Regions from separate parts of the Homo sapiens genome. Here region 1 is linked to region 2. Evidence: fine-mapped expression QTL. A gene starts in region 2. The other region holds a variant in brackets. All regions are shown on one strand. Distances are between the middles of the regions. Region 1 has its middle 57 kb from the start of ZNF248-AS1. Region 2 holds the start of ZNF248 (zinc finger protein 248).

The links. PIP is the estimated chance that this variant, and not a neighbour inherited with it, causes the effect. A credible set is the group of variants that fine-mapping cannot tell apart.
Region 1: its variant is the best candidate, but not a certain one, in a credible set for the expression of ZNF248 in whole blood (INTERVAL, PIP 0.51).

Annotation. Positions count from the first base shown.
Region 1 is chr10:37,912,299-37,916,688 of GRCh38, reverse strand. No RefSeq gene overlaps it. Among named protein-coding and RNA genes, the nearest start is that of ZNF248-AS1, 57 kb to the right of the region's middle. The variant T/AT (reference allele first, on the strand shown) is at 1,806.
Region 2 is chr10:37,855,815-37,860,204 of GRCh38, reverse strand. It overlaps ZNF248 (zinc finger protein 248), which reads left to right and starts at 2,595. Exons shown (of 6, transcript NM_021045.3): 1 at 2,595-3,020; 2 at 3,673-3,770; 3 at 3,868-3,909. The coding sequence starts at 3,895. It overlaps ZNF248-AS1 (ZNF248 antisense RNA 1), which reads right to left and starts at 2,456. Exons shown (of 2, transcript NR_186559.1): 1 at 1,704-2,456; 2 at 1-1,127. RefSeq lists silencers at 2,103-2,652, 2,349-2,725 and an enhancer at 3,043-3,102.

The DNA of each region.
Region 1 (4,390 bases), 56 kb before region 2:
AAGAATAAGGGTGAGGAAATAATTGGGACTAACTGCTAATAGAGATGGGACACTGAAACAGAAATAGGACATATAAGGAAAGTTTTGTTTTGTTTTTGAGATGGGGGTCTCACTCTGTCACCCTGGCTGGAATACAGTGGCACAATCGTGATTCACTGCAGCCTGGACCTCCCCAGCAGAGCGTGATCCTCCCACATCATCCTCTCAAGTAGCTGGGACTACAGGTACATGCCACAACATGTGGCAAATTTTTTTGTAGACACGGGGTTTCGCCATGTTGCCCAAGCTGGTCTTGAACTCCTGGGCTCAAGCAATCCACCTGCCTTGGCCTCCCAAAGTACTGGGACTACAGGCATGAGCCACCATGCCCAGCCCTATGTAGAGTCTGAAAGAAATCTCAAACTATGGACTTCAGTTAACAAAAATGTGCCAATATTGGTGTGCTAATTGTAACATACTAAGGTATGACATCAACAACCGGGGAAACAGTGTGAAATAATATATGAAAACTCTTTGTACTATCTTCACAATTTTTGCAAATCTAAATTAAAAGTTTTAAATTCTTGTAAATTTAAAATTATTCAACAAATGGTGAAAAGTATAAAAAGTGACCCATAAAAAGCAGCAAAACAGCAAACAATGAGAAAAAGTGATTGAGTTAAAGAAAAAACCTTAAATCACCAATTATAAATATGCTACATGTTTACCAACTAAAAAGAAAATGATTACAGAAAAGAAACATATAACATATGAAGCAAATGGGAATTCCAGAGATTTTCTTAAAAATCACTGAATGTGGCCAGGCGCGGTAGCTCACGCCTGTAATTCCAGCAATTTGGGAGGCTGCGGTGAGTGGATCACTTGAAGCAAGGAGTTTAAGACCAGCCTGGCCAACATGGTGAAACACTGTCTCTACTAAAAATACAAAAGCTAGCTGGGTGTGGTGGCACATGCCTGTAATCCCAGCTACCTGGGAGGCTGAGGCAGGAAAATCACTTGAACCTGGTAGGTAGAGGTTGCAGTAAGCAGTAAGCCTAGATTGCACTACTGCACTCCAGCCTGGGCAACACAGTGAGACTCCATCTCAAAAAAAAAGCAATTTCTAAAAATCCTATAAACAACAACAACAAAATGTTAAAAGGAGACAGAGAAAAAGCATACAACATATCCTGAGGAACAAAGATTTAAAAATTATCTTAGACTTGCATCACAAAGTATCCAAGCCAAAAAACAAAGGAATGAAACCTTTGGAGTATTAGAAGAAAAACACCCCTACCAATATAATCCTATAGCCATCTAAAAAATCTCCCATAAAAAGGCAAGAAATACCTTTTCATGCTCCCAAAAAACAAAAGCTGGGAACATTTATCACCAGGAAAATTGCATTACCAGAAATGTTAAATGGAATTCTGTTAAGCAAAAGAAAAAGAATACCAGATGAAAATCTGAATATCTACAAACGAATGAAGAATTTACCAAAAATGGTAAATAATGAGACAAATATAAAATATTTCTCATTCAAAAATTACTCTAAAAGGGCTGGGCACGGTGGCTCACGCCTGTAATCCCAGCACTTTGGGAGGCAGAGGCGGGCAGATCACAAGGTCAGGAGATCGAGACCATCCTGGCCAACATGGTGAAACCCGGTCTCTACTCAAAACACAAAAATTAGCTGGGCATGGTGCCTGTAATCCCTGCTACTCGGGAGGCTGAGACAGACGAATTGGTTGAACCTGGGAGTCAGAGATTGCAGTGAGCCTAGATCGCGCCACTGCACTACAGCCTCCATCTCAAAAAAAAAAAAA[T/AT]TCTTTAAAAGGTAACTGTTTAAAGCAAGCAAAATAGTATAATGCAGGATTTATTGGAAACACAGCAATGGGGCCGGGCGTGATGGCTCACACCTGTAATCCCAACACTTTGGGAGGCCAAGGCAGGTGGATCACCTGAGGTCAGGAGTTCAAGACCAGCCTGGCCAACATGGAGAAACCCCATTTCTACTAAAAATACAAAAATGAGCTGGGCATGGTTGTGCACACCTGTAATCCCAGCTACTCTGGAGGCTGAGGCAGGAGAATTGCTTGAACCTGGGAGGCGGAGGTTGCAGTGAGCCAAGATCATGCCACTGCACTCCAGCCAGGGTGACAGAGCAAGACTCTGTCTCTCTCAAAAAAAAGAAATGGAAAGTATGACAACAATAGTGCAAAACAGGAGAGGGGAAACTAAGTACACTCTAAGTTAAAGATCTATTATTATTTGAAGGTAGATTGTGATAAATTAAAGAAACTGATGTAAATTTCAAAGAAACACCTATATAATAATGTTTTTAAAGTTGATCCAAATTGTGAAAAAAATGGAATACAAAAATACATTTAAAAAGACAGATAAAGAAAAGAATAATGAAATAAATAAAAAACAATTAGTCTAAATAATATGGCATACAAACGTTTCTCCCTGTTCCTCCTTTCCTCTGGAAATAACAAGGGACAAGAAAAGGAAATTCTGAAAAGTGGTAAGAAAAAGGTAAACTGGCATATGAGCCCAGAACTGGAGGAACAATGCAACAGCATGGCACTTTATCTACACAGAATAAGGCATCCCAGACCCAACATTTCCTGACCTCCAAACTAGCAACAAAGCAGCCCTAGTAAGCTCATTCCTCTCCCTGAACTAAAGGGAGTCCCCTCTTACAGTCTCAGGCAAGCCTGAAACCCCTGGCAAAGGCGACTGACCTGGAGAATCCTCCAACAATAAACAGGCGGAGAAGTGCTCCCCTCCCCAACCAAGAGACTGAAGTAGGTGAGGCCCAGCCAAGAAAAGGTCTCATCCAGGAAGCCTCTTTGTATCCACAGGCCTAAGAATTCTCCATCCCCACCAACAGATACCTCGTGGAATGGCCTGGAGAAACTCCTTTGGCTCCTTCAGGCAGCACCAACAAGAACCAGAGGCAGGCCCATCTGTACTAGATAAAAGGAGTAGACTAAAATAACACCAGAAAGACTCTGAAAACTGTCACTGGAACCACAGCCCATAAAGGTAAGCCAAGAACTGCAAGCTGAAACCTAAAGAAGGTATCTGCCTGCAAAAATAAAAGATTGAAATAGGACTCACAGTTTCCAAACCTAAGTAGGAAAAATGTACAGGATACCTTTAAAAATCACACATCCTAACAAAAACCAACAACAACAACTTGAAAAAGAGAAGAATCAAATGACACTAACACTGAGATGGATCAGATACTGGAATCATCTGGCAGACTTTAAAGCAGCCATTAGAAATAATGCTTCAGGCCAGGTGCCGCAGCTCATGCCTGTAATCCCAGCACTTTGGGAGGCTGGGGGCGGGTGGATCACTTGAGGCCAAGAGTTCGAGACCAGCCTGGCCAACATGGCGAAACCCCATCTCTACTAAAAATATAAAAATTAGCCAGGGGTGGTGGCGCACACCTGTAATCCCAGCTACTCGGGAGACTGAGGCAGGAGAATCACTTGAACCCGGGAGGGGGAGGTTTCAGTGAGCCAAGATTGCACCACTGCAGTCCAGCCTGGGTGACAGAGTGAGACTCCATCTAATAATAATAATAATAATGATGCTTCAAAATCAATAATACAGGAGTGACATCACCAAGGTGGCTAAGCAGAAGTTCCTAGAGCTAGTGCCTCCCACAAAAACAACTAAAACAACTTCTTTCAATGAAAACAACTAAAGGAGATCAGAATAAAGCACAGGAGTCAAAGAATCTTGCAAAGCACAGAGACACAGAGAAACTCAGGCGGGCTGCACAGAGAAGGAAAGGAAATACCTCACCTCTGCCACCCCATACCCCAACTGGGATCAACTTGGAACCAGGAAGGACTTCTCCCTGTAGGGAAAAGTCATGCAGGAGGATGCCAGCAACCCCCATTACCACATGGACACCTGCAGTCTTTGCCACTGGGGACTCCTACAGGCCATACAGGTGCTGAGCCCACCTGAGGGAGCTGCTCAGAGCTACGCTTCACAGCTAGACCAGTGAAACAGCATAGACAGCCCAGAAAAAAACCAAACATATATGGTGAACTAATTTTCAGCAAGGGCACTACAAGGACACAATGAGGAAAAGGCAATCTCTTCAATAAATGGTTCTAGGAAAGCTGGTTTTTCAAATGCAAAAGAATGAAATGGGACCTTTTTCTTATATCACACAAAAATCAACTCAAAAATACATAATAGAACTAAAAATAAGACCTGAAACCATAAGACTACTTGAAGAAAACACAGAGGAAAAGTTCCTTAACAGTGGCCTTTGCAATGATTTTTTGGATATCACACCCAAAGGTCAGGCTACAAAAGCTAAAATAAATGGAACTAAAACTAAAATGCTTCTGCATAGCCAAGGAAACAATCAACAAAATGA
Region 2 (4,390 bases):
AGCAAAAACTGGTTAGAGTTTATGCCTGCATCTTACAGAATTCAGGTTCCTACCAAAATTCTAAACTTGTGGACTTCCACTAGTTTTACAAAAACGGTTTTTGTCCCCAAACAAGGAGGGGGTTAGTTTCAGGAAGGGATCATTATCGTTCTTGTTTTAAAGTTAAACTATAGGCTGGGTGTGGTTGCTCATGCCTGTAATCCCAAGCACTTTGGGAAGCCAAGGTGGGAGGACTGAAGTCAAGAGAGCGTGCTTTCATCTTCATAGCAAGGTCATGAAAGACAAGGTAGGAGCAAGAAACTATTACAAACTGGCCAAGGCTAAGACATGACAAGTAAATGTACTGTGATACTGAGAGACAGGACTAGCTGGATTTCCTAGGCCGACTAAGAATCCCTAAGCTTAGCTGAGAAGTTGACTGCATCCACATTTAAACAAGGGGCTTGCACTTAGCTCACATCCGACCAATCAGGTAGTAAAGAGAACTAACTAAAATGCTAATTAGGCAAAAACAGTAGGTAAAGAAATAGCCAATCATCTATTGCCTAAGAGCACAGCGGGAGGGACAATGATCGGGATAGAAACCCAGGCATTGGAGCCGGCAACAGCTACCCACTTTGGGTCCCCTCCCTTTGCATGGGAGCTGTGTTTTCATTCTATTAAATCTTGCAACTGCACTCTCTTCTGGTCCGTGTTTGTTACGGCTTGAGCTGAGCTTTCGCTCGCTGTCCACCGCTGCTGTTTGCGGCCTTCGCAGACCCGCCGCTGACTTCCATCCCTCCGGATCTGGCAGGGTGTCCGCTGTGCTCCTGATCCAGCGAGGTGCCCATTGCTGCTCCCAAGTTGGGCTAAAGGCTTGCCATTGTTCCTGCACAGCTAAGTCCCAGGTTGGTCCTAATCGAGCTGAACACTAGTCACTGGGTTCCACAGTTCTCTTCCGTGACCCACGGCTTCTAATTGAGCTATAACACTCACCACATAGCCCAAAATTCCATTCCTTGTAATCCATGAGGCCAAGAACCCCAGGTCAGAGAACATGAGGCTTGCCCCCATCTCGGAAGCAGCCCACCACCATCTTGGGAGCTCTGGGAGCAAGGACCCCCGGTGACAATATCCTTGATTGGTTGCTGGAACAGAAAAAGGGCATTAGTGGAAGAACTGCTTAAGTCTGAATAAACTCTGCAGTTCAGTTAATAGTACTTGTACCTATGTTATTTTCTTAGTTTTGATAAATATACCATGGTCATGTAAAATACTAACACTAGTGGAATCTGGGTGAAAGGCATATAGGAACTATTTTGCAACTCTTCTGTAAATCTGAAATTATGAGCAAATGAAAAGTTTAAAAAAGTGGACAATGACCCAGGAGTTGATTTTTTAAATGAAAAGTTGTAACACACGCACATGCTCATAGTGTGCTGAAAATGCCAGATGTGCACGTAAAAGAATGTACGTGTAGTGTAGTTCTGGGTAAAGTATGGTTGGTTTTGGGAAATGAGTGCGTGCTTTCTTCTTCAAATTTGTTACTCAAACGGCTTTTTTTTTTTTAAACATATAAACAATTTTATGTTTGGGTCTTGAATTGCTAGCTTCTGTTTTTCCTTATTCCAGAGAATAACCATACTGGTCACAGATTTTAGTTTTCTCTTCCAGTCTTTCAGTTAAACGTTACCATGCATGATCGTGAATGAATTCAAGCACACCTTTCCTTCTCTTGGCTTGTGTCTAACAGGCACATTGATTTGATCCACAACCTCTGGGGACACTGACAGAATCCTGGTTCCAAGCAGGAGTGGGTAACTGAGACAGTAATCTCTCAACCCACTATACAAGGCTGTTTTGCAGGAGAGCCTTATGATGACCAGCATGATATATAATTGTGAGAAATATACTGAACAATTTATGTGTCAGACACCGGTTTAAATGCTTTTACAACGTAAGCGCCTCCAATTCTCATAAAACCCCTGCTAGGTAGGCACTATCAGCCTCATTTTACAACTGAGGGTTGCGGCCAGAGCTGACAGGCACCGTCTAGCGCCGCTTCCAAGCCCCGCATCGCATCCACCAGCCTAACTCGGGCGCTCGGCCTCTCCCTCTGCGCATGTGCATCCCCGCCTCCCGCTCCAGGCGAGTCCTTCCCTGGACTCCAGTCCCTTGTGGGAAACAATCCCTCGCCTCCGGAGGCGGCGAGGAGCGGCGGGTGAGCCCCGGAGCACTGGGCGAGGGCCAGGGGGTCCCCGCGCTGCCCTGAAGGCGGGCGGGCGGCGGCTAGACCTCGGCGGTGGGGAGGGACCCCTGGCGCCTGCGGCGACGGTGGGACGAGGGCGTCTCTGTCAGAAGGGGATGAGGTCTGGCGTGGGAACGCGAGTTCCGGGGCTCCCGGGGGTCCGTATGCGTCCAGTCCCTGCGCCTGGCGCTCAGCGAAGTCCTGTAGCACGGGGTAGGCAATGCGCACTGGCCCGAAGGGGAGGGAACTGGCTGCGGGGAGGGGACAGCACGCGCGTGCGTAGCGTGTGACGTTTGTTGTGCGCGTGCGCATGGCGTTTGATGTGTGCGTGTGCGCTTTTTGTGCCCTGAGCCCGCGGGGAGGAGGCGGGGCTGCGGGGGAGAGCGACTGCGCCAGGTCCGCGACAAATGAATTAGACACAATTATCCACGGGAGACTCGGTTTTCCTCTCTGTAAATTACGGATATTAGGAATACTTGCCGCCTGGGGTTGTTTTGAGCACTTTCATTGTTTAGGTGCTGTATTTATTGGGTGTGCGTTCCCTGGGAGAGCCCGAGGGAGACGGCTCCTGCACCGGCCCCAAGGGCCTCTCTGCCCGTGGAGTGCAGGAGCGAAGGGGCTGGCCTAGCTGACCACCAGGGCCCCTGCTGGCTCTGACCGCCCTCCTATCCCAAGTAATTATTTACACGTTTCGCGTTCGCTTATGTATTATGTGTAATCATGGCACAGTATCCTGAAGCCGTCGGAGTCTGTGTGCTGGTGCAAGGTCTGGGACAAATTTAAGAAGAGAGAGGTGAGCTGGAGCTGAGGGGTGGGCGCGCAGGCTAACAGGAACGTCACCTCTGGAGAGTCTGAGGGCAGGGACGGGTGAAAGGCTCACGGCCACAGCGAAAGAAATGCTGTTATCACCCCTCCGCGAACACCGGGCACATCCAGATGAGCTGCTGAGCTTCCTCCTCTCTTGGCCTGATATCCCCGCCGGATGGTAGTGCAGTCAGGTCATACTTGGGTTATCTGTTTTGACCTTATTTGAAAGATGGAAAAACAAAATTGAGTTTGAGGAGGTGAGTAGTTCAGATCTTGTCATTCCTTAGAGGCAGAACTGAGATTAGAAGTCAAGTCTGCAGTTTCCCGAGCCACTGCTGCCCATTTTGTTACTCTATATCACAGTTTCTCATTAAAAGATCCTTTTGAGGAATTGTTAGCAAGTTAGAACAAACATTTTTAAACTTGCATTTAACATCCTATCCCTTTTTTTAGAGGTCTTTTGCATTATCTAACCTCAGGGCATTAATGGTGTTAACAGGTAAACAGATAAACAATATGGCCTCAGTTTTTTTTTTTCCCTACAAGGAATTTTGACAAACCCATAGTGTTTTTTCCTTCAGATTACTGTTAACTTGTTAAACTCATCTTTTCATGTTTTTAATTTTTCTGTGTCACAGAACCTAAATTGGTAATAAATCAATAAGAAATATTTACATTCACTCAGTGAAAAGTGTCATGTCTGAGCTCAGCATATATCGGAGCCACACATGGACACGTAAGTATCTTGTGTGTGGACCTGTATAGGCAGGTGAATCTCCGAACTGCAAGGCCGGCGAAGGCTCTCCTGACATTCTTCCTTTCTAATCCTTCAGCTCTCCTTCCTCCACTAAGAGCGGAAAATGAACAAATCCCAGGTGAGATTCTTGTTTCTTTATTCCCAGTTTGTTTAAAAATGGATTTCTGAAGTTTATAAGGGTTTATGTTTTGAAAATGGAAAAATAGAAATAGGCAAAAATTGACATTAAGGGAAATAAAACTGAAGTAGCAAATCCAAAATAGTGCAGTTGGCAAATTAGATGCAGGATTTTTAATTTTGCAGAATTATCCAAGTTATTGTAATATTATCTCTAATTGTTCTAGTAACAATTCTGAAATAAATGCAGTAAATTGTCTATAAGTATTTCTTTGTAGAAACAAAGAACACAGTTACAGAGCAGAACTCAGTGCATATGCTTTTCAGGAGAACAAACGCTGAGGTTTGATGGTCCTGTTTGATCCAGGAATAAAACCTTGACGATGTGGAGGAATGGAGGGACTGCATGTCCTCAAAACAGTTTTCCCTAACTGTTTGTGTCAGCTCGTTCTTATTTCTAGGTTGAATCACTGACAGTTCCG